Linked DNA regions of Homo sapiens: all the other regions are linked to region 2. Evidence: fine-mapped expression QTL. A gene starts in region 2. Each other region holds a variant in brackets. All regions are shown on one strand. Distances are from middle to middle.

What was found. PIP is the estimated chance that this variant, and not a neighbour inherited with it, causes the effect.
Region 1: its variant is fine-mapped to the expression of AKTIP in whole blood (INTERVAL, PIP 0.98).
Region 3: its variant is fine-mapped to the expression of AKTIP in tibial artery (GTEx, PIP above 0.99).
Region 4: its variant is fine-mapped to the expression of AKTIP in cerebellum (GTEx, PIP above 0.99).

What each region holds. Positions count from the first base shown.
Region 1 is chr16:53,474,586-53,482,727 of GRCh38, forward strand. RBL2 (RB transcriptional corepressor like 2) reads left to right here. Exons shown (of 22, transcript NM_005611.4): 18 at 4,569-4,640; 19 at 5,301-5,406; 20 at 5,982-6,184; 21 at 7,086-7,250. Among named protein-coding and RNA genes, the nearest start is that of AKTIP, 25 kb to the right of the region's middle. The variant C/CT (reference allele first, on the strand shown) is at 3,960.
Region 2 is chr16:53,499,435-53,507,434 of GRCh38, forward strand. AKTIP (AKT interacting protein) reads right to left here and starts at 3,775. Exons shown (of 10, transcript NM_022476.4): 1 at 3,713-3,775; 2 at 784-895. The coding sequence starts at 825. LOC124903690 (a long non-coding RNA gene) reads left to right here and starts at 4,946. Exons shown (of 2, transcript XR_007065069.1): 1 at 4,946-4,986; 2 at 5,307-6,544. RefSeq lists enhancers at 2,971-3,472, 3,473-3,972, 4,433-4,532 and silencers at 3,243-3,542, 3,803-3,872, 3,893-4,132, 4,853-4,942.
Region 3 is chr16:53,441,374-53,449,490 of GRCh38, forward strand. It overlaps RBL2 (RB transcriptional corepressor like 2), which reads left to right. Exons shown (of 22, transcript NM_005611.4): 3 at 1,285-1,485; 4 at 5,669-5,733. It also overlaps the pseudogene RNU6-1153P. Among named protein-coding and RNA genes, the nearest start is that of RBL2, 11 kb to the left of the region's middle. The variant T/C (reference allele first, on the strand shown) is at 3,570.
Region 4 is chr16:53,416,196-53,424,321 of GRCh38, forward strand. No RefSeq gene overlaps it. Among named protein-coding and RNA genes, the nearest start is that of RBL2, 14 kb to the right of the region's middle. The variant C/T (reference allele first, on the strand shown) is at 4,202.

The sequences.
Region 1 (8,142 bases), 25 kb before region 2:
GATTATAGGCGTGAGCCACGGTGCCCAGCCTATAATTCTTTTTATATGTTGCTAGGTTTGGTTTGCCAACAGTTTGTTGAGGAATTTGTTTTCAGTTAAAAAAAATATTTATTTTTTCAAGTTTCCACATGCAGCAGTGATTGCTAAGGAATTTTATCCTTATGCATAAGAGGCATTGGTCTGTAGTTTTCTTGTTGTGGCTTTGTCTGGTTTTATTATCAGGGTAATAATGGTCTCATAGAATTGAGTAGGAAGTGTTCTCTTCTATATTTAGGTATTATATTTTTTCCTTTGCCTTTTTTTTTAATTTACAGCTGCCTGAAAGACCCATGGATATGAGCTTCTTGGTATTAATGTTTTAAAGTTTGGTAGAATTCAGCAGCGAAGCTGTTGAGACCAGAGATTTTCCTTGTGGGAAGTTTATTGGTGAATAATTCCGTCTCTTATTTGTTATAGGTCTATTCAGATCATCTGTTTCTTCTAGAATCAGTTGTGGTAGTGTATGTCTTTCTAAGAATTTGTCTGTTTCCTCTGGGCTAAATTGTTGGCAAATAATTATAATATTTCCTTCTGTTCTTTTTTATTCTTTAAGGTCAGTAGTAATGTCCTTTTCCTTTTATGATTGTAGTTTTCGTTTTGTTTTGTTTTTTGAGACAGTCTCACTCTGTTGTCCAGGCTGGAATACAGGGGCATGATCTTGGCTTACTGAAACCTTAGCCTCCTGGTTTCCAGTGATTCTTGTGCCTCAGCCTCCTGAGTAGTTGGGACTACAGGCCTGTGCCACCTCGCCCAGCTAGTTTTTGTATTTTTAGTAGAGATGGAATTTCCCCATGTTGCCCAGGCTGGTCTCAAACTCTTGGCCTCAAGCGATCCATCCACCTTGGCCTCCCAAAGTGCTGGGATTGCAGGCATGAGCCCCTGTGCCCTGCTTTTTGTAGTAGTTTGAGACTCCTCCCTTTTGTTCTTGGTCTAGCTAAAGGTTTGTCAATTTTCTTGATCTTTTTCTTTTAAAAACCAGCTTTTTGGTTTCATTTATCTATTTTTGTGTTCTTTATTCATTAGTATATAATCTTATTTCCTTCTTTCTGCTTACTTGAGGCTTACTTTTTGCCCTTTTCTGTTGTTTTAAGATGGTTTAAGATGGATGTTTAGGTAATTAATTTACTATTTCTCTTAATATCTTTTTTCCCCAAATCCTTTACGTAGATATCAGTATCTTTTAAAAGATACCTTTCTAATATTTCAATATCTTTTTTTTTTTTTTTTTTTTTTTTTTTTGAGACAGCATCTTGCTCTGTCGCCTAGGCTGGAGTGTAGTGCTCACGGCAGCCTTCCTCCAGGGCTTAAGTGATCCTCTTCCCTAAGCTTCCTGAGTAGCTGGGACCACAGCCGTGCACCACCATGCCCTGCTAATTTTTTGTAGATACGAGATTTTGCTGTGTTACCCAGGCTGGTCTCGAACTCCTGAGCTCAAGCAATCCTCCCTCCTCAGCCTCCCAAAGTGCTGGGATTACAGGTGTGAGCCACCGCCCTTGGCCCTTCTTCATTTTCAGTGTAAGCATTAACAACTCTAAATTTTCCTCCGTGCACTGCTTTAGCTGCATGAGTGTTGGTATGGTGTGTCTTCATTTCAAAAGTATTTTCTGATTTCTTTTTTTGGCTTCTGTTTGACTCACTGGTTATGTAGCAATATGTTGTTAACTTCGTATTTGTAAGTTTCCCAAATTTGTTACTGATTTCTACTTTCATTGTGATTGAAAACACACTTCATTTTATTCCAGTTCTTTTAAATATATTAAGAATTGTTTTATAGCCTAGCATATATGCTCTATCCTAATGAATTTCAAAGTACATTTGAGAACAGTGTGTATTCTGTGGAGGTTGGGGAGAGTGTTCTGTAGATGTCTGTTAGGTCTAATTGTTTTATATTGTTAGTAAAGTGTTTTGTTTCCTTGTTGATCTGCCTAGATCATCTCTCCATTCTTGAAAGTGAGGTACTGAAATCTATAAATATTATTGCTGAATTGTCTACTTTTCCCTTCACTTCTGTCACTTTTCGCTTCAGGTATTTTTTGTGCTCAGTTATTAGGTATGTGTATAACTGTTATAGATTCCTGATGGCTTGATCCTTTTATCATTATGGAATGTCCCTTTTTAATAACTTTTTTTGTCCTGAAGTCTGATTTATAGTGTGAGATATATAGTCACCCAGCTTTCTTATGGTTGCTGTCTGTATACCTCTTTCCATCCTTTCATTTTCGAATGTATTTGTATTTTTTAAATCTAAAATGTCTCCTGTAGATAAAATACATTTGGATTTCTTTTGCCTTTTGACTATGTATATAATTGGATTTACATCTGCCATTTTACTTTTTGTTTTCATGTCTTTCCCTTTGCCTTTGCAGCTTTGCTTTTGCATTAGGTCAATATTTTCTAAAGTAGCATTTTAACGTCAGTACTTTGGTTTCATTTTGTGTGTGTGTGTGTGTGTGTGTGTAGTGGTTGCCCTAGGGCTTACCATATATCTCTTATCAAAAATCAGCTTCAGATTATACTGACTTAATTCCAGTGAGATATAGGAGTGTTAACTGTTTCGTTACACATATTACATCCATAAATGTACAACTCCACCAGTACATTGTTATAATTATTGATACAATTTTATGACTTCTAAAGTAGCAGAAAGGAAAGGAGTGTAAGTATGTATTTAAAACTTTTGCTCTAGTAACCTTATTAATAATTTCTGGTTTCCTTTCTTTCTTTCTTTTTTAAGACTGAGTCTTGCTCTGTCGCCCAGACTAGAGAGCAGCGGTGCAATCTCAACTCACTGTAACCTCTGCCTCCCGGGCTCAAATGATCCTTCTGCCTCAGCCTCCCATGTAGCTGGGCCTACAGGGTGCAGGCATGTGCCACCATGCCCGGCTGATTTTTGTATTTTTTTGTAGAGACGGGGTTTTGCCATGTTGCCCAGGCTGGTGTCGAACTCCTGGCCTCAAGCAGTTCACTTGCCTCAGCCTCACAAAATGTTGGGATTACAGGAGTAGCCACTACACCCAGCCTATTTCTATTTCTCTTATTCATTCCTGTGTATGTGAGTTGCCATCTGGAGTAATTTCCTTTGCTCAATATGGCTTTGCTCCTGCCTACCTCCTTTGTACTGTTGTAGGCAAATATGTTACATTTTTGTATGTTATGGGTACATTATATATATATATTATTTATACAATTGATTTTTTAATCAGTTAAGAAAGGAGAAGAAATGTGCAGTTATACTGTATTTACGATTACATAATTATCTTTACCAGTGCTCTTGGCTTTCTTCATGTGTAGTGTTGTCCAGGGGCATTTGCTTTTGGCTTCTAGAATTTTGTGTAGTATTTCTTGTAAGGGGTTTGCTAGCACCAAATTCTGTTTTTGTTTATCTGAGAGTATATTTATTTTACCTTCATTTCTGAAAGATAACTTGCAAAAATTTTGAATATTGACATTTCAGAGATAAAAATCTTGAGTAACTTTTTAATACTGGATTCTTAGTTTAATATTTTTTCTTTCATCACTTTGAATGTTATCCCACTGCCTCCTGGCCTCTGTAGTTTCTGATTAGAAGTCAAATTTTATTTTATTGGGGTTTCCCTGTAACTGAAAAGTTGTTTTTCTCTTGATGCTTTTAATATTTTCTTTCTTTGGCTTTGAACATTTTTACTGTGATATATCTGGGTACGGATGAGTTTATCCTACCTGGAAGTCACTGAATGTCCTGGATATGTAATTTAATAAATTTGGGAAGTTTTCAGTATTTCTTTGAACATTTTTTTCTGCTTCTTTCTCTCCTCTCCTGATTCTCCCATTACACGTATGTTGATTTCCTTAATGGTGTGCCACATTTCTCTGAGGCTGTTTTTCTTCATTCTTTCTCTGTTCCTCAGATCACACAATCTCTTTCTTCATGTTTGCTAATC[C/CT]TTTTTTTTTTTTTTTTGCTAGTTCAAATCTGTTTTCCCTAGCTTCTAGTGAATTTTTCATTTCATTTACTGTACTTTTCTACTCCAAGTCTTTTTTTGAGAGAGAGTCTTGCTCTGTCACCCAGGCTGTACAGTGGCTCAATCTCAGCTCACTGCAACCTCCATCTCCCAGGTTCAAGTGATTCTCCTGCCTCAGCCTCCCCAGTAGCTGGGATTACAGGCATGTGCCACCATGCCCGGCTAATTTTTGTATTTTTAGTAGATACTGGGTTTCACCATGATGGCCAGGCTGGTCTTGAACTCGTGACTTCAAGTGATCCACCCTCCTCAGCCTCCCAAAGTGCTGGGATTACAGGTGTGAACCACCGCACCTGGCCTCTAAGTCTTGATTCACATACTATAGACTCCTATTGTTTTTATTGAATTTTAATAGATATTCTTGAATCGATGTATCTTCATTTGCTATATGCCGTTAATACCATTTCCAGAGACTTTAAATAGCTTTTATATAATTTTCACCCCTTTTACTGGGCAGCAGGTTCACAGAGCTCCTCACACTATTATGGTGGTAGTTGCCATGTCTCTCAGAGCACTCTTATTGTTTGCCAGGTCACAAAAGAAGATAAGTCCTTCCAGAACATTATGCGTTGTTATAGGACTCAGCCGCAGGCCCGGAGCCAGGTAACTACATTTTCTCTATGGGCTGAAAAATAAAGCTTAAAGTCTGTGATGAATACAAAAAATTAACCATAGTTGACTCTGTGGCCTTTTTTCCAAGATAAACACCTGGGACTCTACTTAAGGGAAGTTTCTACTTTAATCTTTATTCTTGATGTCACATGTTGATTAAGGTCTCTTTTCCTCAAAAGGCAACAATGTTAAATATTTGATTGCCTTCTTAATTCAGAAAAATCACAAGATAGGAATTAAGAAGTTACTTGGTTTCTATGTCACCTTTCATTCTGGTTTAGTAAACATACTGTAGGTTTAACCAACAGAATGTCACATGGAAATTTAAAACCCACTTTGCCTTTATTACCATTCATCTCTGAGAGGCAAATCGGCCAGATCTGTGTATCTTACTTAGAATGACTTGACATTATGGTTGGGTGCTGTCACTGCAGTGTAGTACTGCAGGTAGTACTTGGCATGTGATGCTAGATGGGCTCTGATTGAATCCTGGATCTGTTATAATTTGAGTTATGTTTCTCAACCTGTTCTGAGGACAACTATTGCTATACAGGTTATTGTGAAAACCAAGTAACATATGTGAAGGTCCTATCACCAAGGGTGTGCTCAACAAATACTAGTTTATGTCCCCTTCTCATTGTTTCTCTAAAGGTGTATAGAAGTGTTTTGATAAAAGGGAAAAGAAAAAGAAGAAATTCTGGCAGCAGTGATAGCAGAAGCCATCAGAATTCTCCAACAGAACTAAACAAAGATAGAAGTAAGTGGGATCTTTGTGAACTACAAGACAAAATTAGGAGCTTTTCTTACTTTTTAGGCCTTGAAGAAGTAACTAAGCATTACTAAATGAAATAACTATAGAAACTATGAAAGTGTTTTATAGATCAGTAAACCATATTCTAGCTGGCAAAACTGTCCATTACATAGCTTTGGGGCACATATTATGTAACATTTTTCTCCAGGAGAATTAGAGCTTTCAGGGAGGAATCTGCTTGCCTGAGTTCCAGAAAGGTCTGATATGTCAATTGGAACCATGCTATGGAAATACCATCCCCTGCCTGTTGCTTTGTACCACTTAGTACAGGGCTTAGGTCCTAGAAAATTTGGTGTAACTTATTAATGGACACTACTCAGAAAGCCCTTGCTATGGTTATGGCATAGGGAGAAAGTTAATATCCTAGCTGAGCTTTGCTTTTTGGTGTGAAGAACAGAGTGCCTATTCACTGTTATTAGCAAGTAGTGCAGGTAGCTGTTCCCTTTCTCCTACTTTTAAAAAATTAAAACAGTCAATATTAGCAGCCTTTGTACTGACAGCCTTTGTTCTCCTGGCTGCAGCCAGTAGAGACTCCAGTCCAGTTATGAGGTCAAGCAGCACCTTGCCAGTTCCACAGCCCAGCAGTGCTCCTCCCACACCTACTCGCCTCACAGGTGCCAACAGTGACATGGAAGAAGAGGAGAGGGGAGACCTCATTCAGTTCTACAACAACATCTACATCAAACAGATTAAGACATTTGCCATGAAGTACTCACAGGCAAATGTAAGTATGACAGGGATTATTTCATACTTTTTTCACTCATGAGTGTTGAGGAATCATTTATGATTTATATATGGACCATTCACCTGGTCCGTATATAAACTAGTTTTGGCCAGGTGTGGTGGCTCACACCTGTAATCCCAGCACTTTGGGAGGCCGAGGAGGGCAGATCACTTGAGGTCAGGAGTTCAAGACCAGCCTGGCCAACGTGGTAAAACCCAGTCTCTACTAAAAATACAAAAATGAGCTGGGCGTGGTGGCACACACTTGTAATCCCAGCTACTCTGGGGGCTGAGGCAGGAGAATTGTTTGAACATGGGAGGCGGTGGTTGCAGTGACCTGAGATTGTGCCACTGCACTCCAGCTTGGGTGACAGAACAAGACTCTGTCTCATAAATAAGCTAGTTTTACAAATAATTCTATTAAGTAAAACTGAGGAGGTCTGTAATTTACCTAACCAATATAAATTCTACTGTTGTTAAGCATTAAACGAGTAAGATTGTATTTGGAGTCCCTACAAAGTATAGTAGTACAAGAGACAGGCTACATGGGTTCAAATTTTCCAGTACTTAACAGTGGTGGTAACCTTGCAAATCATTAAATTTTCTCTGTACCTCATTTCCTCATATATAAAATGGGAATATAACTAGTTCCTAGCATATGGGGTTGTTGTAAGGATGAAATGACATAATGTATAAAAATTGCTTAAAATAATAACTGGCACAAACTAAGCACTTAAGGTTTGCTATTAGAATATTTTTCTTTAGGTTAAGTTATTGCTAATACATCACTCTGTCATTCATAAAACTACTGGTTTAGCACACCTCTTCACTCAATAATCATTTTCAGTAAAAATAATTATAAATTTTTTTCTTAGAATTACTGATTTTTTTTTTTTAAACAGATGGATGCTCCTCCACTCTCTCCCTATCCATTTGTAAGAACAGGCTCCCCTCGCCGAATACAGTTGTCTCAAAATCATCCTGTCTACATTTCCCCACATAAAAATGAAACAATGCTTTCTCCTCGAGAAAAGATTTTCTATTACTTCAGCAACAGTCCTTCAAAGGTGAGCCTAACATCAATCTTGGCCTTTACTAACCTCAAAATGCTTCAGATGCTAGAAACAGGGTTTGTGCTAAGCTTAGGCACTCATTAGAGTGATGAGAGCTGCCAGGGAGCAGTGATCAGTCAGTCCTCATGAAGCAAAACCCAGGGTTTGTTTTGTTTTTTGCCTTTTTTGAGGGGGAGGGGGTGGAATTTTAGGGTGGGAAACAGGGTAAGGGATTTGGATTTCTTTTTATTCCCTCTCCTATTTGTACATTTTGCTGTAAACCTGAAATTTGTGTTTATCCCATTTGTAACAATTTTCCACATTTGTTAGGGAAAGAAATTTTGGATTCCTTACCAAAGGCCTGTTTCTGGGACAGGCAGTGTCCTCAGGACTCTGGCTAATGGGAGAAGTTGACATTTTTGACATTGCAGTGCAATAGTCATATTAGCACAGATGTATGTGGCAACAGCCACCTCATTCTAAGAAGGGGAAGGAAGCTTGAGTCAGGCCTTAATGTTGAAAAGTCAGGGAGCTGTTGAGGTATGGAAGGGCACTCAGCAGGAAGCAGGTTAAGGGGAAGAAAACAGTGTCCTTGAGGCAGACAGTGATCCAAAGCTTAATTACGGGCATCATGCTATGTTAGCGAGTGGAACTGGATTGTGAAGGCCCTTACATAATGAGATTTTTATTGATAAAGGTTGCTTAGAGGCTGGGCGTTGTGGCTCACACCTGTAATCCCAACACTTTGGGAGGCCACAGTGGGCAGATCACCTGAGGTCAGGAGTTCAAGACCAGCCTAGTCAACAGGGTGAAACCTCATCTCTATTAAAAATACAAAAATTAGCTGGGTGTGGTGGCATGCACCTGTAATCCCAGCTACTCGGGAGGCTAAGGCAGGAAAATAGCT
Region 2 (8,000 bases):
GAGGTGAGATTATAGTTTTTTTTTTTTTTTTTTCTTTTTGAGATGGAGTCTTGCTCTGTTGCCCAGGCTGGAGTGCAGTGGCGCGATCTCAGCTCACTGCAAGCAAGCTTTGCCTCCTGGGTTGACGCCATTCTCCTGCCTCAGCTTCCTGAGAAGCTGGGACAACAGGCGCCCGCCACCATGCCCAGCTAATTTTTTTGTATATTTAGTAGAGACGGGGTTTCACCATGTTAGTCAGGATGGTCTCGATCTCCTGACCTCGTGATCTGCCCGCCTCGGCCTCTCAAAGTGCTGGGGATTACAAGCATGAGCCACCGTGCCCAGCTGGTTTTTATTTTCTTATTGTTTGCCTATTTTAACCTTTCCTAAAATGAAAATATATTTTTAAAAAATCATTTTATTTAGAAAAATTAAATTAGTGCCCCTCAAGTCTGATTTAATGATATTAGACTAGCCTTTCCCACAGCTGTTCTAACCGTAGAACCTTGAAGTTTAGTAGAAAACTACAATGTTACAAATTTCATCATGTGTAAATATAACCTAAATCATCTTAGAATTGTGATGACCAGAACGATTTCTATTTGAGATGCAATCCTAGTCTCAGAAACAGACTTCAACCAACAAAATAATTATTTCTCAAGAGTAAACCCTTAACTAGAAAAACCAGGTAATTTTGTCAAGATTACAGGTGACCGTGACAGATTATTTTAGCCTTCATTCTGACCCTATTTTCAGACACAGAAGCAAATGGGTTTTCTTACTGAATTTATCAACTATACCTACTTTGCGTACAGAGCTTGTAGACATGCTCCAGAAAGGGTTCATAACGTGTATTCCAAACAAAGAAAGTCAGTGGTGTATCATCCAAATCTTCTGTCTTCGGCATTCACTTTACCTTAAAACAAGACGGGAAGACATAGAAACATGCCAACACCAACCATTAAGACTTTTTTTTTTTTTTAAGATGGAGTCTCACTCTGTTGCCCAGGCTGGAGTGCAGTGGTGTGATCTCGGCTCACTGCAACCTCCACCTCCTGGGTTCAAGCGATTCTCCTGCCTCAGCCTCCTGAGTAGCTGGGATTACAGGTGCCTGCCACCATGCCCAGCTAAGTTTTGTATCTTTAGTAGAGACAGGGTTTCACCATGTTGGCCAGGCTGGTCTCGAACTCCTGACCTCAAGTGATCCACCTGCCTCAGCCTCCCAAAGTGCTGGGATTACGGGCATGAGCCACCACGCCCGGCCAACAGTTAAGACTTCTGAAATGATGAATAACTAATTATGACACCCTGGATATACAATATAATGTTATATAACAAGGGGTTATAAAAACCTAGGAAAAGGTCTTCAGGCATCTTCAGAAATAGTTTCCTTCTATACCCACCTCCTTTTCTGGTTCTAATTTCTTTCACACTTAGATGTCTATAAGAATCTGTGCACCAGGTCCCTTGGCCAGGATTCAGATTACTCAGTGACACAGATGAGCTTTGGTGCCAGAAATTCAGAAGATACGGACAACAGTTGTTACTAGCACATCTCGGCATTTAACTAACAGGAAAGCCAGACTCAGAATGCACTGTACCCACATACACATAAGTTGTATCACTGTTCCCAGGGTTATGGGAACAAACAATAGATACAAGGAGGCTGATTTAAGCGCTGCCTCAACTCACCTGAGTACAAAATGATTCCTCCAGCAAAGTATTAGCCAAAGAAATAAGAGAAAACAGGAAGGCACAGCACAAGTATGTCACTAAGACGACAAAAGTAGTTACCTGAGTCCTGTCAGTACCATCCCCCAATAAACTGCCTTCTACAACTTCGAAACATATAGAAACTGCAGGATCATGTACTTAAGGAACTGCCAAGCAATCCAGACAAATGCAACACAGGCACGCAAGAGAGACATTTCACAAGTACAGATCTTCCAGCCGAAGCTTCAAGTCGTGGATAAGAAAGCATGTCTCAAAGGTCATAAAGTCAGTGGGTCATTTACTAAAAATACAAAGAAGCAAAGGAAAAGCAGCCAAGCCCAGCTGTAAGAACAGCAACTTCCCTGCCCTGGTATTTCCCCCCAGGCTCTGTTACCTTTAAAGCAGAGCTCCTTCTCTGAATTCCTACTTGCACCAATCAAACGGCTGAAGGTGAAAAGGGTCAAAACTAAGCAACGTTTTCCTAATTTCTTAAACAGATCATGAGCAAACCATGTACTAAATGTCCCCAATCAGCAATAATTTGTCTTCTCTGACGAGCTTGTGACATCCAGGGACGTACCCAACCCAGGTCATCCATACCTTGCCAGTGCCCATTACTGCTGTTTTGTTTTCCAAGAGAAAATGCCACCCAGTAATTAAATCAGAGGAATGAAGATCCTGGCTCTTCTACTAGCATGGATAACATGCAATAAGTAACAACAGTTCTCCGCAAATCTGCCTTTAAAGGTGAGTATGACACACTGAATATACTTGAGATATCAAAAATGTGCGGGGGCATGTTCCCCTTTGGCTCAAATGAAGACACTGATTTTCAGATCTAGCAGTAATGTGCAGCACCCCAGTGTCCTCTAGGACACACCTAACACGGGACCGGATCCCTTGGGACACAGTGGTGTGCTCCACAACATACATTTAATGGGCTGGTGCAAACCTGTAAAGTCTCTTAAAGGTCTAACGCGTTAGGATTCTCTTTAAGAATCCAGTAAATTTTGTCCCCAGTTCTGCCTGTCATTAAGCAGGAGGTATTGTCTTCTGCTGCCTAACTTTGCTATGGATCTTTTAATCCAATGTTTCCAGCAGCAACATAATCACGAGAAACTGTAGCACACTTTTCAGGGTCTAGTCTAGGACAAGCACAGCATACATGTTCTGAGAGGAATGACATAGATGGAAGCAAGACATGTTACATCCTTGTCACTTGGAAACAATTTTAGAATTTCTGCCTGTTTGGCCACGGCTGCATTCCTTTACATCACCCAGCTGAGAAGTCTGGGTCTTCAGCCTGCGCGAATGACAGTGCGTGGCAGAGCTAAAACTAGGCTAAAACATGAGTGCTGCTGTTACTCTACATGCCACAGCGCACTCACATCACCCCGAATCGGACTTAAGAAATTACACGTTAAGAGGAGACAGAGCAGGGGCCAGAAAAAAAAAGATGAAAACGGCCCGGGCCAGGCTCGCTGGGGACAGCCGGGACCCGCGGCGGCCTCGGACCGGCACCCTCACCGCGGGCGGAAACCCGTCTCTGAGCACTCAGGGAATCTGGACAAACCTGTCTCGAGGTGATGCAAGGCGGGGGCCCTGTCCTGGCCTCGCAGCTAGCTCGATGCTGGCCCGGGAGCCGCGGGCCCCTCCAGTGGGGGGGCTCTGGGGCCCGGCGACGCCCCCTTAACCAGAGCTCGGGGTCGGGACCCGGCCGGGGAGGGCGGGCACGGGCCGGGGCGAGCCAGCTGGGCCCCCCTCTCCCTCGGGCCGGGCCAGCCCAGCTCCAGCCGCAGTCCCCAGCAGCAGTCCCGGGCTGCGAGGCGGCCAGCGCAGCAGGTGCCTGCAAACGCGCACAGGTGCCCGGCCCCGCCTCCGTGTCCCACTGCGGCCGCCGTCGCCGAGTCGCGAGCGCCTAGAAAGATGGACAAATGCCGGGCCCGTGGAGGCTGGCGGCCAGATTTACAGACACCTCAGCCCTCGCGTACCCACCAGCCTGCCGGGCAGTAAGCCTCACCCCAGTGCCTTCAATGCAGAGCTCCTGGCTGCCAAGCGCCGCCGCGGCCCGACAGCATCTCCCGCCGCAGCGCCAGCCCTGCCCCTGCTTGATCCCCGCCCCGCCCCACCCCGCCCTGCCCTGCCCTGCCCTGCCCTCGGCAGCGGGCTCCGCCCCCTGCTGCACGATCCTGGGGCCCGAGGCTTCCGCCTGGCCTCCCGGCGCCAACTGGCTCTCACACCTGCCCGTCAAAGACGTTCTTCCGGGGGCGTTGGGAAGAACACACTCGGTCCTGCAAATCAAATCACCCCGGTTTGGGTGGGACTGCACTTGACCCTCCCCTTACGTAACAGCGCCTGGGACGGCCTGTCAGTCATGGAAGTATCGGCCCCCCGGGGAGGGATGGGGCAGAGACAAACAAGCGCCGGGTCACAATTGGCCAGGGCGTCTGCCAGTCACCACGGAGACCTTCCCGGAGGTTTATTCGCACAGCCCACAGCGCAACCGCCATGCGCAGGGGCTGGGGCATACGCTAACGTCTGCAAGCCAAGCTTTTGGGGAGGGCCGGGCCGCGCGACTGCCCAGTGGCTCCCATCGCTAGGTCCTACTGCGTTGGGCGGCGCTGCGAGGCCCGAGGCCGCCACGTCGGGCCCACAGGGTACCAGGGGTCAGAAGGACACTTGGCGTGGCATCAAGAAACGCCCGTTCTCTCCATCAGTGCAGGAGCTGAAGGCTGGAGCTGAAGGGAGCTCAGCTCCAAGTGGGCCCTGGGCACTAGAGCAGCCAGAGGAGCTTTGTAAATCTGTGTGTGTCGGCCCCGACCTGCAGCATCCGAGTGGGGGCCGGGGGCTGGGGGGAGGGGGGAGGCTGAGGACCAGGAATCCACATCTGTCACAGTTCGCTGCTGATTCTGGCGCACACTGAAGTTGGAGAACCTCTCCCATAGCAACATAGTTCCTGGTCTTTTTTTTTTTTTTTTTTTTTAATTCACACGCTCTCATTTGGACCTCCCGTCTGCTTTCCCATGGAGGTCTCTCTCTGGCCTAATTCTGTGACTGCTGCCAGCTGCTTTCCAGGCCTGTTCTTACCAACGGTGCCTCCCCGTGGTTAGTCCGTCCAATCTCGGCACTCCACTTCCACACTTGCGCGACAGCCCTCTCCCCGCAAGCCCCTGCCCCTTTTCTAGACACCAGAGGCACTGACCTGTCTGTGACACCGCCTCAGTGTCTTACACTCAGAAGCCGCATTCTCTGGCCGGGTTGTTTGGTCCATTTTTGGTTGCCTCTGAGATTCTGGTAAGTGACTTATTAAAGGGCAGGAAGCCAAATTCTCCTGATGTTAATCCCAAGGGTTGGTTCTGAAACCCAGCTTCCTCCCCTAGCTGAAAACACTTCTGAGCCACTTCCTTTTGTCCCCTTAGGACACATTTAGGAATGTTATCATGCCTTTTAATACGAGTCTTAATACAGAAAGGCAGGCAAGCAGGAAATCCTTTTTTCAGGCCACAGGTGGTCTCCTTTGGCACCTCTGTGGCCCATTTCCTCCCAATCTTCTTTGAAGCTCATTATCCTCTGCAAAGCTTTTTTTCTGCTTTCCTCCTTTCCCCAACCTTCAGTTTTCACCGAGGACCCACATAGGTATTTCTCCAGCTCACATCTATCCACTGAGCTTCCAATGCATGTCATCAACTGCGTACTTGGCACCGGATGACTCAGACGCACACCAGCATCAGACTGCACATGGCAGGAAAGCCAACTCAAACCGGCTTACTTAGCAAGGGGATTTCTCTCCCATGGGAGGATTGTCTCCAGAGGTGGTGCCCTGGTCTTCAGGCTCTGCTTTCCTTGCAGTCCCTGGAATTGCACTTTCAGGCTGGTAGCAAGATGGCCGCGGCACACCCAGGATCTCACAAAATTAAAAGTATCCCTTTCTTCCAGTGGTCCCTTTTGAAATACATGACTACCTTTCCCAGAAGCTCCGCAGAAGAAATGCCTGCAGGTTTCAATGGCCAGAAGTAAGTCTCTGGCCACAACGAAACCCAGTCAACGGCAAGTGGAAGGAGTCCGCCATGATCGACTTGGGCTGAGATTTTCCCTAGATCTCTGCCTGGACTTTAGGCAGAGGAGAGCCATGATCAGATTTGTATTTTGAAAACATCACTTTGTGCGGAAAACAGATTGTAGGGGCACAAGGCTCACGGGGCAGTTGAGGAACCATGGCAGTAGTTCAGGCAACAGAGAATCGCATGAATTTGAAGGTAGAGATGGAGAATTGAATGAGTTCCAGAGATGTTTAAGACGGGATGATATAGTTTGGATATGGTTTGACCCTTCCAAACCTCATATTGAAATGTGACCCCCAATGTTGAAAGTGGGGCCTGGTGGGAGTATTTGGGTCATGGAGGCTGATCCCTCATGAAAGGCTTGGTGCTGTCCTGGCAGTAGTGAGTTCTTGGCAGTAGTGAGTGAGTTCTATTAGTTCCCGAGAGAATTGATTGTCAAAAAGAGCCTGTCACCTTCTCCTCCCCTGACCACTGCTCTCTCTCTTGCCAAATGATTCCTGCTGGCCTCTCCCTCTGCCATGAATGGAAGCTTCCTGAGGTCCTCACCAGAAGATGCTGGTGCCATGCTTCTTATACTTAGTTGCCTCTGTCTTTCATTTGACATATATTTATTGCATGCTTAATGACATCTAGGCTTTAAATGCTGGGGAGGCGTTGGAGAACAAAACAGACATTGTTCCTCCTCATGGAGCTACGGGAGATAGATGCTAATCAAGTCATCTCCCAAATCAATGGCTAATTGCCCCAAGGAAGTGGACAATGAGCTGAATAAACCTCTTTTTAAAAATAAATGACCCAGCCTCAGGTATTCCTTTATAGCAACACTGATGGATTCATACAGGTGGGGTGGACAGAGCTTGGCCATGGACTAGGTATGGGGGATGAAGAGGCAGATATGGCTGACACCTAGATTTTTAGCATGAGCTACAGGATGGATGGTGAGGCCATTCACTGAGGTGACAAACAGTGAACCACAAGCAGGTTTGGGACAGTGGGAAATGGGAAAATCTGGGTTGTGTTTTGGGTAGGTATGTTTGGGGTGTTTCTGTAAGCACTATTGCCTGTATACCTAATACCCACTTCTCCCTTTTTCATTGCTGACAGAACCTCCATTTTCTTGAGGAATTTAAGCCCTTCAGTGGTTCCCCATTGGGCAAAGACCAAACTCCTCACCATGGCTGTGTCCCAGCCCCAGGTGGCTGCAGACTCCAGCCACTCTGACATTCTTCCAGTTCCTTGGAAGGGAGTTGCTCCCCTACCTGCCCTGCCACAAAAGGGGCCTTCGCAGTGAACGTTCCCTTTGCCCAGTTCATTCTCTTCAATCCCCTACACAGATCTCAGCTCTAACACTACTTCCTTGGGGGCAATTTGCTGTTGATTTGGGAGATTATTAGTGTCTGTCTCCCACACTGTAAGCTCCTGAGGAGGAACCATTTTTTTGCTTTCTATTGTCTCCCCGGCACCCAAGAGCTAGATGTTGTAGGCATGCAATAAATATTTGCCAAATGAAGGACAGAAGAAACAAAAGTACATTTGAAACACCTACCTGCACGCCCACAGGTCTGCACCAAGAAAGCAACTCATTATGAAAATCAGGATGATTTATTCAAAGGGAAATGAGGAGGTGGCCTCAAGGTACCATTTCTTTAAGACTAAAACATAAAGTGCTGAGAAAAATCTCAATGGACCCAAAACCTTACCTATAAAACATTTTAAATCGCTTCATATTACATTTCCTATTCTCAATTTTTGAAGCATATTTGATATATTTGCACCAAAAGGTTCTTTTTGCATCCAGACTTAATAGATATGTGATCTCTGAGTATTCAGGACTTCTGCTCATGTTCTAATCAGCAAAATATTCCCTGAATCATACATCTTTTGGACTCCGGAAAAGTAACTGTACAAAGCTGTTTAGATCACTGACTTAACTATTAAAGGCCTTCACAGAAAGAAGGAAAGGATAAAATGTTGAAGGTTGTTAAAATACATATGTTTCATACACAGGCACACATATAAGCCGATGTTTTTAGCGCAATCCATTTGCCCCCAAGTCCTTTTCTGAAAAGTAGATTCCTGTATACATGTCACTGATTACATATACTGTTCAAAATATGGGAGGATGATCTAGCTATACATATTAATGTCTTTGAAAAAATATACTTAGCACATTAAAGCCATTATTTTATGGGTAATAATGTTTAGGATGAGACCAAAGTAGGCATTTAATGTTGTTGTTTTTTTTAA
Region 3 (8,117 bases), 58 kb before region 2:
TCTTGGAGTAGTCCCCAAAGAAACTCCTGCACACATGTATAAGGATGTTTTCATTACAACATGTTTTGTTATCATGGAATATTAGAAACAACCTAAATTTCCATTGGTTGGGGAGTGAATGCAAAAAGTCATTGTATGTTCATATGAAAGAATGTTTTTAGCAATTAAAATGAATATATCTTACATATCAACATTAATGTCAGAAACATTATTGAGTGTGAAAAAGCAAGTTGCAGAATACCACTGAAGTATGATAGCATTTATATAAAATGTAAAAACACGTAATAAGATATTGCTTATTGTTTACACATACATGTGTATGTGTAGTAAGTGTGAAAACATAGGAAGGATTAAGACCAACTTTAGAATGGTTTTTATCTTTGGGGTAGAAGGGTAAGGATGGGATTAGGGAGGAGTATAAAATGGTAATTTTGACTGTTTCTTTTTCTTTTTCTTTTTCTTTTTTGAGACAGAGTCTCGCATTGTCGCCAGGCTGGAGTGCAGTGGCGTGATCTCGGCTCACTGCAACCTCCGCCTCCCAGGTTTAAGTGATTTTCCTGCCTCAGCCTCCTGAGTAGCTGGGATTACAGGTGCCCGCCACCACGCCCAGCTAATTTTTTGTATTTTTAGTAGAGATCGGGTTTTACCATGTTGGCCATGCTGGTTTCAAACTCCTGACCTTGTGAATCTCCCACCTCGGCCTCCCAAAGTGCTGGGATTACAGGTGTGAGCTACTGCGCCTAGCCTTGACTGCTTCTATAGTGTTGCTAGTTTAAAAAAAAATCTGAAGTGGCAGGAGGAGGTGGCTCACACCTGTAATCACAGTGTTCTAGGAAGCCAAAGTAGGAGGATCACTCAAGCCCAGGAGTCTGCAGTGAGCTGTGATCTTGCCACTGAACTCCAACATGGGTGATAGAACGAAACCCTATCTCTTACAAAAACAAAAACGACAAAATTTATTTAATATATTAACATTTAAAAAATCTGGCAGTGAACCAACGTGAATGTTGGTTAGGTTACTCTTGTTAATTTTGGTTTGTATTTTCAAATATTTCATAGTTAACAAATACTTTAGGTAACCTAAACAAAATGGATTAGGAGGATCAGAGGAATATACCAATCTGTAAGAAATTAAGCTAGTCAGAGACATGAGTTGTGATTTTATTTCACTGTCTAAAAGTAATATAATTTAATGCGATAATATTGATTTACTTTTGAATACTTACTTTTGTATACTTTAGCCTTATGTTAATTATGAAATATCTTGTTTGTCTTTAATACCAGCTTAATCGAATTTTTTAATAAGATGAAGAAGTGGGAAGACATGGCAAATCTACCCCCACATTTCAGAGAACGTACTGAGAGATTAGAAAGAAACTTCACTGTTTCTGCTGTAATTTTTAAGAAATATGAACCCATTTTTCAGGACATCTTTAAATACCCTCAAGAGGAGCAACCTCGTCAGCAGCGAGGAAGGAAACAGCGGTAGGTTTTCTTGTTGGTTCATCAGGAATACACGTTAGTCTGTGCTGCAGTGTTGATATTCTGCTAGGTTTTTTTTTTCTGGTTTTAAAAAAGAAATAAGATTTAAAAAATCTTTTTCCTCAGTCGTTTTCTTTTAATGATGCTTTTTTTGCTTTTCATTGTGGGTTAGCCATGAAGAGTGGCTTTTTTCATATTGCTAAATGTATACAGGTCTTTGTTTCTATAAACTTTCATTTGTCTTATTTTATTTTATTATTATTTTTTCCTCAGTGATCCTTGTTCTGAAACCTTCCTTTTTCATTTAAGCAACAAAAAATGCAGACTGTACAAGTCAGACTTAGGGATTTTCACCCTTTCGCCGCCTTGGAGATGTATCTGTATCTGTATCTGGATATATATATTTTTTATTGCGCAGGGGCCATGCTAATCAATGTATTGTTCCAATTTTAGTATATGTGCTGCCGAAGGGAGCACTGCCCTAGATATAGATCACTATATTAACCACTATATTTTCTACTAGTGATTATATAGACTATTTTATGTCAAACTGAGTAATAAATAATCCCCTTGAAATGACTTCTCTATGTATTTTGATGTTTATAATGAATTCAGAATAGAGAGACTGGATTGGGAAAAGACAGGAGAACTGAAACTATTATGAATTTGTGCTTTCTGATCACTTCTGCAAAGTCTATAAGCATGCTCTGACTCAGTGTTTTCTACCTTTCCTGATAGATAAAGGCAGTTATGGAATACACATTTTCCTTCTTTATCATTGAAAGTTTTTTCATAAAGTAGAAATGAAAATTCTAACAATTAGAAAAATGTTGACAAGAAAAGTAAAGGGAAAGGAGTTAAAATTATTTGGCTAGAATAAATAATGTTTGCTTCTCTTTAAATATAAAAGTTTTCCCAGACTGTGAAGGATGTTTACATTAAGTGTAACCTTTTAAAAATAAAATGGGGGAATGACAAACCAGGAGGAAAAAAAATTTAAAAAAACTAGAACTATTTACATTTTAATATAGATGGCACCACTGATACAGAAGCATCTGGTCTAGCTCACTTACAGTTTTGGGGAATTGACTATTTAAAATGAAGCATTCTGAGCCAGGCGGGTTGGCTCACGCCTGTAATCCCAGCACTTTAGGAGGCTGAGGCAGGCGAATCACCTGAGTTCAGGAGTTCAAGACCAGCCTGGCCAACGTGGCAAAACCCCGTCTCTACTAAAAATACAAAAATTAGCTGTGCGTGGTGGTGCATGCCTATAATCCCAGCTACTCGGGAGGCTGAGTCAGTAGAATCCCTTGAACCGAGAGGCAGAAGTTGTGAGCCAAGATCGTACCATTGCATTCGAGCCTGGGCGACAAGAATGAAACTCCATCTCATAAATAAATAAGTAAACAAATAAAAGGAGGTATTCTGGCTGAGTGCCTGTAATCCCAGCACTTTGGGAGGCCAAGGCGGGTGGATCACTCTAGGTCGGGAGTTCGAGACCAGCCTGGCCAACGTGGCGAAACCCCGTCTCTACTAAAAATAAAAAAATTAGCGGGGTGTGGTGGTGGGTGCCTGTAATCCCAGCTACTTGGGAGGGAGAGGTGGAAGAATCACTTGAACCTCAGAGTTGGAGGTTGCAGTGAGCCGAGATCACGCCACTGCACTCCAGCCTGGGCGATAGAGCGAGACTCCATTTTAATAAATAAATAAATAAATAAATAAATAAAATGACATATTCTCCTAGCACTTTGGGAGGCCGAGGCAGGTGGATTGCTTGAGGTCAGGAGTTCAAGACTAGCCTGGCCAATGTGCCAAAACCCCATCTCCACTAAAAATACAAAAATTAGGCAGGTATGGTGGTGTGTGCCTGTTGTCCCAGCTACTTGAGAGGCTGAGGCAGGTGAATCACTTGAACCCAGGAGTCGGAGGTTTCAGTGAGCTGCGATCGCGCCACTGCACTCCAGCCTAGGTGACAGAGTGAGACTTCGTCTCCAAATAAATAAATAAAAAATGAAGTATTCTAAAGTTTGAATAGAAGCTTTGTACTGAGTCTGAGTGAGGCCAATGTGATCATTTATGGGAAGATA[T/C]CTTCTTTCTTTGGAGTATCTGGAAAATAATTTCAGATTGCACTTGTTTTGCTATTTCTTAGGATATATATACTACCTAATTCTAATTAAGAGAATTTTAAAAGGCCATGTGCAGTGGCTCACACCTGATCCCCAGCACTTTGGGAGGCTGAAGTGGACAGATCACTTGAGCCCAGGAGTTTGAGACCAGCCTGGACAGTATGGCGAAACTTCATCTCCACAAAAAATAGAAAAATTAGCTTGGAGTGGTGGCGCACACCTGTGGTCCCAGCTACTGGGGAGGCTGAGGTGGGGGGATCACTTGAGCCTGGGAGGTTGAGGCTGCAGTGAGCTGTGCTCATACCACTGTACTCCAGTTTGGGTGACAGAGCAAGACCTTGTCTCAAAAAAAAAAAAAAAAAAGTAAATCACTTTATTAGAGATTTTACATTTTAATCACTTTGTATACTTTCTGTTAGCTCTTTCTGTTAACTATAGTCATAATGTATAGCACTTACTGAGCATTTACTTTGGGGCAGGGACTCTTAAGACTTCAATATGTATTACTTCAGTTAATCCCTCTGACAACCTTGTGATACTCATACTATTGTTAGATAGAGAAAATTAGCCGCAGAGAGGTTAAGTAATTTGGCCAGGGTCGCACAACCAAGCGTGGAGTTCTTATTGAAACTGACTGCGGGAACCCATGTGCTTTACTGTGACTATATACTGCATCTCTCACACACTATCTGAAAATGTGTCACTATTTGTTTAGCACTTATCCACAGGAAATACTGTTAGGTATTATGTAGGACACAGGCATTTTTTAAAACACCAAACCCCACAGTCTCTGTCTTCTGAGAGCTTACAGTACAGTCAGCGAGATGAGGCAGGTATGAAGATTCCAGTGCATGCAATGCAGTGTGTTATAAAAGTCCCATGACTACCAGAGGGAATACAGATGTAAAACTTAGGAGGAAAAGAAATCACTCTGGATGAGCCAGTCAGGTAAGTTTACATGGAATAAGTAGAAATGGGTCTTGAAAGATGGGTACGAGTTTGATAGGTGAATTTGAAGATACAGATAGCACCTTCTGTGTAGAGGAAACAAGAAAAGACAAAAGCAGTAAAGCAAGAAGAAATGTGGGAGGTTAGTCAAGTTTTTTTTTCTAGAATTCTCAAGTTGTAGAGCCAGAATTAAGAGTAGCTTAAGTGTTAAGCTAAAAAAAATTGAATTTTATTTTGGTAGGCAACTAAAACTAGAAATAGTTTATCATGCGCCTATGGTAGAGAGGCTACTTTTAAAAGCAGAACACTGACATTTAATCCTTGCCATGGACTGGTGAACTAAGTACAGTATTGTACCCAAGTAGAGTAATCTTTTGACAGATGAAATGACTAAGGCCCAGGTGAGCAAGTACCCTAGCTAATGGCAGTGCTGGAACTAAATCTAATCTAATCTTCTCCACGGAATTTCGTTCTTCTGGGCACCTTGTTAGAATAAGGCTGTTGGGAGGTGGAGACCACAGATTTCTTGTCTAAAAGTTGTCAGAGGTTTTGGTAGAAAAGCCAAGCTTAAAGCAGGTCTGAAACTTGGCAGACTACTTGGCAATATACAACAGGTACTCTTAATGGATGGAAGTATAAGGAATTATAGGAAGCTCATAATTTACATTAAAAAGGCCTTTTGTGATTTGATATAGTCTGGAATATCTTTAAGGAGGGAGGGAGGGATACAGGTCATTAGCTATGATAAAGGAGAAAAAAATAAGGACATATCTGACTGCATATAGTGGTCCTAAAGCAGCATAGCATTGCTGTGTCATCAAAAGAACTATTTTTATTCATTTTATTTTCCACCTCACCTATCTTGCCCTCAAAAAACTTTAAAAAATTCTTTAAGAATTTTCTTTTCTTTGAGATGGGCTCTTTCCCTGGATCCCAGCTATTTCCTACCAATATTTTGTTAAGGCAGAACGTCCACGTTTTCCATGTGAAGCTGAATCTGTTGTCTCTCCCTTTAACTGTGGGTTTTATTTTACACCTGATTTATAATCATTTGGGATTTTTTTTTCTGATTCTTCTGTTGTCTCATGACTTTTTTTTTTCTTCCCCCAAAGGCGACAGCCCTGTACTGTGTCTGAAATTTTCCATTTTTGTTGGGTGCTTTTTATATATGCAAAAGGTAAGAAAATAGTAATATTTATTTAGATTTAATATGTCTATTTACATTTTCAGGTATTAATTTTGTCAACTTCTAATATGTATCAGGAAAAGATTTTCACTGAAAATTTTCTCAAGGGTTTTAATCCTAGATTCTTTTTTAAGTATTGCCTTTTCATCAAAGGATCTATTGGATTTCTTTACAATATCCAAATCTTCTCTTATTAAATGGAAAGTCCATTAACTTTGTTGTATACAACATCTTTTCTACCCAAAGCTACTCTTTTAAATTATGAGCTGAAAACACATTATTCTGTATATGCTTGTATTGTGAACTCTATTTTTCATGAGATGTATCTTATTTAGTTGAGCGCAATTACTGATCAACCTCAGAGCTGTTCAGATTTTTTTTTGTATCTTGTTCAGATAAGTATACTTAGTCAAATGCTTTTATATACTATTTATTTTCTTTCCCTTTTTTCTTGTCTCATTTAACCTACCCAAGGTCTGCATTCAGTGAAATACATGTCTCTATTATTTTTTGTCCTTTTTGTATTTATTTATTTATTTATTTATTTGAGATGGAATCTCATTCTGTCTCCCAGGGTAGATTGTAGTGGCACAATCTCGGCTCACTGCAGCCTACACCTCCCAGGTTCAAGTAATTCTCCTGCCTCAGCCTCCCGAATAGCCGTGATTACAGGCGCCCACCACCATGCCCAGCTAATTTTTGTGTTTTCAGTAGAGATGGGGTTTCACCATGTTGGCCAGGCTGGTCTCAAACTCCTGACCTCAGGTGATCTGCCTGCCCTGGCCTCCCACAGTGCTGGGATTATAGGCACGAGCCACTGCGCCCAGTTCCTTTTTATATTTCTATGTAGAAACAATTCTTTAAAGTAGATAGGAAAGTGCAGTTATATTATTATATAGCTTTCTTCTGTATACTATGTGGAATGCCTTTGCCACTAAGATGGCTCAATAAAATGCAAAGTTAACAAAGAATCTTAGAGCTGGAAGGAGTTTCATAAGTATAAGAGAGACTCTCATTATTAGATTAACTAGCTTAACTTACTTTATTTTATTTTTTTTTTGAGATGGAGTCTCACTCTGTTGCCCAGGCTGGAGTGCAGTGGTGCGATCTCGGCCCACTGCAACCTCTGCTGCCCGGGTTCAAGCAATCTCCTGCCTCAGCCTCCCGAGTAGCTGGGATTACAGGTGCCTGCCACTGTGCCCGGCTAATTTTTTGTAGTTTTTAGTAGAGACGGAGTTTCACCATCTTGGCCAGGCTGGCCTTGAACTCCTGACCTCGTGATCCACCTGCGTCAGCCTCCCAAAGTGCTGGGCTTACAGGCGTGAGCCATCGCACCCGGCCTAGCTTAACTCATTTACTTTATTTTTTATTTTTATTTTTATTTTTGAGACAGGATCTTGCTCTGTTGCCCAGGCTGGAGTGCAGTGGTATGATCTCTGCTCACTGCAACCTCCGCCTCTTGTGTTCAAGTGATTCTTGTGGCTCAGCCTCTTGAGTAGCTGGGATTGCAGGCATGCACCATTATACCTGGCTAATTTTTGTATTTTTAGTAGTGTTGGGGTTTTGCCATGTTGGCCAGGGTGGTCTCGAACTCCTGACCTCAAGTGATCTGCCACCTCGGCCTCCCAAAGTGTTGGGATTACAGGTGTGAGCCACCATGCTCAGTCAGCTTAGTTACTTTAAAGATTAGGCAGCTGAGCCCAGAAACTAGCTGCTGGGAACAAAGCTAAGATTGAACTCAGATCTCCTGGTTCCTGGTTCTTAGTTTCATACTGGCTGTGAAGGCCTCTGGGAAGAATGTGTTACATTGTTGGTCTCCAGGTTTGATTTGTCCTGGTCCCTCTCTGGCTAATTAGGGTGAGAGCCGCCATCCTTCCTTCCCTGAGCTGCATGCTTGATTCAAGAGAAAAATCTTTCTTTTGTCATACATGACACTGGCATGTTTCTTTAGTGATGATAAAGGCGACATGATCAGTGGCATGAAATAAAGGTTTTGGAGTATATAAACCATTTTTACAGCGGCTACAAATTTTAGAATGTGTGACTGCTATTATGTATGATGGTAATCTTTTCATATGATTGTATTGGGCAAGTATGTCTCATTTCTAGGATTTTTATCTGTTTTGTTTGTCTTTTATGGCATATGTGTACTTAGAAGTAAATATAGTTGGTACTATATATAATATGTACAATACAATAAAAAATAATTTCATTGTCCTTATTTTGTTCTCACTGGACCTGTTGGGGTGGTTTTTTCTCTGTAATTAACTCAGTGTTTGACTTTTATCTCATTAATTCAGTTTATAATAATTCCACCTTAAGAACCTTTGTGGATTGGGCATGTTGGCATATGCCTGGAATCCTAGCTACTTGGG
Region 4 (8,126 bases), 83 kb before region 2:
TAATCCCAGCTACTGGGGAGGCTGAAATAAGTTCATAAATTCAGCAGCTGTGAGGTAATTGGCCCAATTGCTATGCTACTTTCACCCCTTGAGGATGAACAGTGCACAGGAGAGTGCAGGTTTACAGGTCTCTGAATAGTGCCATCCAAAAATGGTGAACAACCACCCTGAAAAACAGCTTGGTGTTTTGTTTTGTTTTATTTTGTTTTCACAAATTAGAAACGTGCTTAACTATGTACCCACTAACTGCACTCCTGGCCACTTGCCCTAGAGAAATAAAAGTTGATATTCATGCAAAAACTTGTGCATGAGTTTTCACAGAAGCTTTATTTTTAACAACCAAACTATAAACCCAAATGTCCTTCAACAGGTGGATGGCTAAGCAAACCGTGGTACAGCCATACAATGGAATAGTACTTAGTAATAAGGAATGAACTATTGAATGATTTGCAATGACCTCAAAGGAATTAAACTTTAAAAATTTAATCTCAGGCCGGGTGCGGTGGCTCACACCTGAAATCCCAGTACTTTGGGAGGCTGAGGTGGGCGGATCACGAGGTCTGGAGTTCGAGATCATCCTGGCCAACATGGCAAAACCTCGCCTCTACTAAAAATACAAAAATTAGCCGGGTGTGGTGGCACCCGCCTGTAGTTCCAGTACTTGGGAGGCTGAGGCAGGAGAATTGCTTGAACCTGGGAGGCGGAGGTTGCAGTGAGCCAAGATCGTGCCACTGCACTCCAGCCTGGGCGATAGAGCCGAGACTCTGTCTCAAAAAAAGGAAAAAAAAAAAAAGGAGCTGAGAGTGCCTCCTGGGGGCACAAGGAAGGGACTGGCTGATAGCAAGGAGAGAAAGATTTCATCCTGGCTCAGGTAGAAGACTTTACATTTTGAATGATGACTGAGGAATCCGTCCTACCAGCTGTGGCCTGGAAGTCAGTCAAGCCCGGTGTTTAGCTTCATCAGTTGAGCAACTATTTAGTTGCTCAACTGTTCTCAGTTCTTGGGAGAGAAGAATGTTACTGCCCTCCTTAGCCTAAAACCTTAAGTGGCTTCTAATCATCTTTGGAATCAAGGCCGATATTTTCCCCAGGCCTTTGACTTCATCTCTACCCACATCTTGTGCCTTTTTCCTTTCACTTTTTACACTTAAACCACGTTCACATTCTTTTAACTCCCTGAACCAGCCATGCTTTTCCCTGATTCAGGCTCTTTGCATAATAAGCATGTTCCTCTACCCGAAACAAATCCTCCTCCCCTTCCTTTAGCTATAACTTCCAGATTCCTCCCCAGGGAAATGAAGGGCAAGAAAGAAAAACCTTTGTCCCCTCCTACCTACCCAATCACCCCCACCTCACTCCTCTCTCCTCCTCTCTCTCCTTTCTCTCCCTCTTTCTGTCTCTCCAACACACACACGGTTAAGGTCTTCTGTGATGCACTCCTATAGCTCCTATAGCTCCCTGAAGTTTCGCTTTTATGATATGTCGTATTCACATTTGCCAATTCTTGTTCTAGGTCTGTTTTCCCCATGAGATCACAGCTGTATAAGGGCAGGGACCATGCTTGTCTCATTTACTACTATATCCTGTGTCTGGCAAAGTATTTGACATATAGTAGGCACTTACTAAACATTTGTTGAATGTTTTAATGGATGGACAGCAGGCTTTCCGGCTAAATGAATGAATAAATGACTAATCAGACTCCAAGAACCAAACCTGTTAAACTCAATCATTAATGTTCATGCCCTCTACTCAAGGCGATGCCCTCACCCATGGCCTTTTTTTTTTTTTAAGTCAGGGTCTCCCTCTGTTGCCCAGGCTGGAGTGCAGTGGTGCGATCATAGCTCACTGCAGACTTGAACCCCTGGGCTCAAGCAGTCCTCTTGCCTCAGCCTCGCAAGTACCTGGGACCGCAAGCACGCACCAGAACGCTTGGCAAATTTTTAAAATTTTTTGTAGAGACGGGGTCTTGCAATATCGCCCAGACTGGTTTCAACCTCCTGGACTTGGGTGATCCTCCCACCTCAGCCTCCCAATGTTTTGAGAGTACAGGCATGAGCCACTGCACTGGCTACTCATGTCCTATTCATCCTTAACTTAATACATATTCCCAGACACTACTTTACTTACTCTGTTTGCAAGTAGCCCTCCCCACAATAAGAGACAGAAAAAAGAGTGTTACCAAGAGATCATATGGTGAGCCCAGGGAAAAGAAACATCTTACAGCTTGAATGCAAGAAGGAAGACAACAATAGGTAAAAGTGTCTGTGTTAGGCCATTTGTGTGTTGCTGTAAAAACAAACACCTGAGGCTGGGCACAGTGGCTCACGCCTGTAATCCCAGCCCTTTGGGAAGCCAAGGTGGTGGATCACTTGAAGTCAGGAGTTCGAGACCAGTCTGGCCAACATGGTGAAACCCCATCTCTACTAAAAATACAAAAAAAATTAGCCAGGCGTGGTGGTGCATGCCTGTAATCCCAGCTACTTGGGAGGCTGAGGCAGGAGAATCGCTTGAATCCAGGAAGCAGAGGTTGCAGTGTGCCAAGATCGCACCACTGAACTCCAGCCTGGGTGACAGAGCGAGATTCTGTCTCAAAAAAAAAAAAAAACAAAAAAACAACAAAAAAACCCGAGACTGAATAATTTGTAAAAACAGGTTTAGGGCAGGGTACAGTGACTCACACCTGTAATCCCAGCACTTTGGGAGGCCTAGGCGGGTGGATCACCTGAGGTCAGGAGTTTGAGATCAGCCTGACTAACATGGTGAAACCCAGTCTGTACTAAAAAAAAATACGAAAAAAAAATTAGCCAGCCTGGTGGCAGGCACCTGTAATCCCAGCTACTTGGGAGGCTGAGGCAGGAGAATCGCTTGAACCCAGGAGGTGGAGGTTGCAGTGAGCTGAGATCATGCCATTGCACTCCAGCCTGGGCAACAAAGCAAGACTCTGTCTCAAAAAAAAAAAAAAAAGAGGTTTAATTGGCTCACAGTTCTGCAGGCTGTACGAGTGCCAGAGGCGTTACAACCAGAGCAACTCCATCTTGAATAGGGGTTGGGTAAAATAAGGCTGAAACCTACTGGGCTGCATTCCCAGGAGGTGAGGCATTCTAAGTCACAGGATGAGATAGGTCAGCAGAAGATACAGGTCACAGAGACCTTGCTAATAAAACATGTTGCAGTAAAGAAGCCAGCCAAAACCCAACAAAACCAAGATGGCTATGAAAATAACCTTTAGTCGTCCTCACTGCTCATTATATGCTAATTATAATTTATTAGCATGCTAAAGATACTCCCACCAGTGCCACGGCAGTTTACAAATGCCACAGCAATGTCAGGAAGTTACCCTATATGGTCTAAAAGGGGGAGGAACCCTCAGTTCTGGGAATTGCCCACCCCTTTCCCAGAAAACTCATGAATAATCCACCCTTTGTTTAGCATATAATCTGGAAGTAACAATAAGTATAAGTAGCTAAACAGCCTGTGCTGTTTTTCTGCCTGTGGAGAAGCCATTCTTTTCTTTTATTCCTTTACTTTCTTTTTTTCTTTTTTCTGCAGGGGACAGAGTCCCGCTCTGTCACCCAGGCTGGAGTGCAGTGGCCCCATCTTGGCTCACTGCAACCTCCACCTCCCAGGTTCAAGTGATTCTCCTGCCTCAGCCACCAGAGTAGCTGGGAGTACAGGCACCCACCACCACACCTGGCTAATTTTTGTATTTTTAGTAGAGGTGGGGTTTCACCATGTTGGCCAGGCTGGTCTCAAACTCCTGACCTCAGGTGATCTGCCCGCCTCAGCCTCCCAAAGTGCTGGGATTACAGGTGTGAGCTACAGTGCCCAGCCTATTCCTTTACCTTCTTAATAAACCTACTTTCACTTTACTCCATGGACTCTCCCCAAATTCTTTCTTGTGAGAGATCCTGACAATGGGTTATTTTACGTAATTTGACTTAGAGTGTGAAGTTTAAATTGTATGTCTAAAGGGATCGGAATCCCTTTCCTGTAACACAAGCATGGCAGTGTCTGCTAGGATTCCGGGGAGGCCTCCAGGAACTGTTAAGCATGGCAGAGGTGAAGTGCAAGCAGGAACATCACATTGCTAGAACAGGAGCAAGAGAGAGGGGGTGAGGAGCCACGTGCTTTTAATTGACCAGATCTCATGACAACACACTCACCATCTGCAGGACAGCACCAAGCCATGAGGGCTCCGACC[C/T]GATCAGACTTCACCTCCCACCAGGTCCCACCCCTAACATTGGGGATTACATTAGACATGAGATTTGGGTGGGGACAAATATTCAGCTATATCAATGTCTAAAACCTCAGTGCTACAAAGCAGTTGAGGGTAGATAATACCATACCGTAATACCACACCACTCCAACATCCTTGTAGGCACCATAAGGCAATAATTGTTTTTTGTTTTTGTGTTTGTTTGAGATGGAGTCTTGGTCTGTCACCAGGCTGGAATGCAGTGGCCCGATCTTGGCTCACTGTAACCTCCACCTTCCGGGTTCAAGCGATTCTCATGCCTCAGCCTCCTGAGTAGCTCAGACTACAGGCGCGGGCCACCATGCCCAGCTAATTTTTGTATTTTTGGTAGAGACGGGGTTTCACCATGTTGGCCAGGATGGTCTCTAACTTGACCTCGTGATCTGCCCGCCTCGGCCTCCCAAAGTGCTAGGATTACAGGCGTGAGCCACCTCACCTGGCCATAATTGTTGTGTTTGTTTGTTTGAGACAGAGTCTCGCTCTGTCTCCCAGGCTGGAGTGCAGTGACGTGATCTTGGCTCACTGCAACCTCCGCCTCCTGGGTTCAAGCGATTCTCCTTTCTCAGCCTCCAGAGTAGCTGGGATTACAGGCATGCGCCACCACACCCAGCTAATTTTTGTATTTTTAGTAGAGATGGGGTTTTGCCATGTTAGCCAGGCTGGTCTTGAACTCCTGACCTCAAGTGATCCACCCGCTTTGACCTCCCAAAGTGTAGGATTATAGGTGTGAGCCACCGCACCCAGCCACAATAATTGTTTATAATGACACAAGGGCTAAGAAGGCAGTTTTTATGTACTTATTTATTTATTTTATTTATTTATTTATTTTTTATTCCCGATTGCCTGCATTTCCCTGTGTATGAAATTAGCAGGCGCTGGCTTGATCAGAGTGTGGGAGCCTGCCGAGCCTGCCCCCACCGGGAACCCGCGCTGGCCTACGAACCCCGCGCGCAGCCCCGGCTCCCGCCCATGCCTCTCCCTCCACACCTCCCGGCCAGCAGAGGGAGCCGGCTCTGGCCTCAGCCAGCCCCAGAGAGGGGCGCCCACAGGGCAGCGACAGGCTGAAGGGCTCCTCGAGTGTGGCCAGAGCGGACGCCGAGGCCAAGGAGGCGCCGAGAGTGAGCGAGGGCTGCTAGCATGTTGTCACCTCTCATTATGATAGTGGCAGTCTGGATCCGTGACCTTGGGAAAAGCTGTTCACATCAAGCATGACATCTTCCTTTGGGGAGAAATTTTCCTGGTTAGTTTTACCTTAAGGGTTCCAATGGGTGTGTACTTCTAAGAGTGTCGACGGACTCTTCTCAGTTGTAAGATTATGAACCCAGGTTTCAAGGTGTCAAAATTTTGTTGCAATGTGGATGGCAAGGACAGCCTTTCTCTGATGTCCTCAGAAGATCCAGTCTTCAAGTTCTAGATTGTGAAGGGGTTGATTGTCCTCAGTGAACCATAAAAAATCTTTCTTTACCTGATTAAAATATACTGTGGCATAATAATTTTTATAACCTAAAACATGCATTAAAAATGACAACTGAATGAAACTCCTTAATAAATGTTTAAGTGACCCATCAGGTAGCCAAATGTACCAGGTGGTTTTATTGTCTTCCCAGGAATATGGAACCAAACATTGGTTTTAAACTATTTTTGCATTTTATAAGTCACCACATTAATATATTTAACTGGGATTATTTTATTTTTTCCATCATGAGTCATGGAATGCAGAACCCTCAATAACAAAAAGCTTTAAGGACTCAGGAAGGACAAGGCAGCCACCCTGGTTCTCCATGAATCCATGCTTAACATTCAACTTATGTCCTCTTGAATACCAGTTGTTTCCCCAAATTAGGTGCATAGCACTAATAACTAATGAGTTATTATAGGTAATTTGACTTAGACTGTGAAGTTTAAATTGTATGTCTAAACAATTTCAATATCAGCTGGTTTAACATGAAAATTTGGCAAAGTATTTTCTTGGTATTTAATTAATTTTTTTGTTCTATTTAGGTTAGCAGTTTTATACAAGGAAATTTGGTTATTTCTGTGGTGTACAATAACTTTACATAATAACAATAATTATAATTGATAGCATATGCTTAGACATACTAGAATTTTATAAATTTCATACAATTTTGGAACATATATTAATATCATTTACTAAAATATAACCTGAAGATTAAACATTATTTTTATTTTGACAAAGCTTCCCATGTAATCTAACATGTCAAATAATTCTGTTTACCTGTCTTTTGGATGCTTCAGGGGCCCTCTGTAGCATTCCAAAGTTAAAGGTTAGAAAAGACCGTTTTGAAGCTGAAACTTGATTTTGGGAAGCATATTAAATATGATAAAAGTTTAAAACACTTGATATTATGAACAAGAATTCCAGGTCACCATAAGTCATTCATTTAGCCAAACTAATGACTCAAAAATTTTTAAAAGGCAAAAACTTTTACTCATTAATAAAGGGAAGGATTAGTTTTGCAAACAATCTGTCCTTTGTCTTTCCCTTCCTTTTTTTTTTTTTTTGGTGGAGCATTTAAAAGACAAACAAAAAAAATTGATTATCTTACTTTTAATATAACATGAAAATCTTGTTCAAGAGAGAAAGACGAATTTCACATTTGCATTAGTGGACTATTAATGTCAACCCCAATTTTTAGTAAAATTGTATAGACAAATCTATCCAATCTTAATCAGTTTGACCATAAGGCAAGATTTTCATAAACCTTTTATAACTCTTTACAAATTTTTGTTAAAGAGCAGATTAGTGCTTTAAGAAAACCTTGTTGTACTTTTATTTGGATGTTCAGTTTATGGAAAAATCTAATAATACCATTTTAAATTTAGTCAATATTTTCACACATAGAATTTCTTTTCTTTCCTTCTGTTTTTTTGGAGGCAGAGTTTCACTCTTGTCACCCAGGCTGGAGTACAGTGGTGCGATCTCAGCTCAACAACCTCTGCCTCCTGGGTCCAAGTGATTCTCCTGCCTCAGCCTCCTGAGTAGTTTGGACAACAGGTGTGCACCACCATGCCTAGCTAATTTTTGTATTTTTAGTAGAGACAGGGTTTCACCATGTTGGCCAGGCTGTTTGTAAACTCCTGACCTCAAGTGATATGCCTGCCTTGGCCTCCCAAAGTGCTGGGATTACAGGCATGAGCCACCACACTCAGCCAGAATTTCCTTTACAAGGTTAATTTTTACAAACCTTCCACAACTTGTTTAAGCCTATAGCTTTATTTTATTTAAAGCAATCCTTTAACCCTCTAAACTAGGAAACAATTTACATTCCCATGCCTTTGAATAATCTCTTACGAAAAACATTTTATTCTCCTCACACACCTTGCATGTAAACCTATTTTTTTTTTTTTTTTGAGATAAGGTCTCGCTCTTTCACCCAGGCCAGAGTGCAGTGGTGCGATCTTGACTCACTGCAACCTCCACCTCCTGGGTTCAAGTGATCCTCCTGCCTCAGCCTCCAGAGTGGCTGGGATTACAGGAGCCCATCACCACACTGGCTAATTTTTGTACTTTTAGTAGAGAGGGGGTTTCACCACGTTGGCCAGGCTGGTCTTGAACTCCTGAACTCAAGTGATCCTCCCACCTCAGCCTCCCAAAGTGCTTGGATTACAGATGTGAGCCACTGCACCTGGCCAACCTATACCTTTAGTAGTCTTAATTACATGTTATAATGGTAATTCTTAGCAACTTTCACTTTTGGTGCATAAATTTTTCTTCTATGAATCCTTTCATGACTTATACAGAACATCTATGACATGCTTGGACTTTCTTATTTGTCCTAAATATCCCTCTTTTTAAACAACCAGTCATTTTACTTTAGGACAAGAATTTACCATACCAGATCCTTTCTTC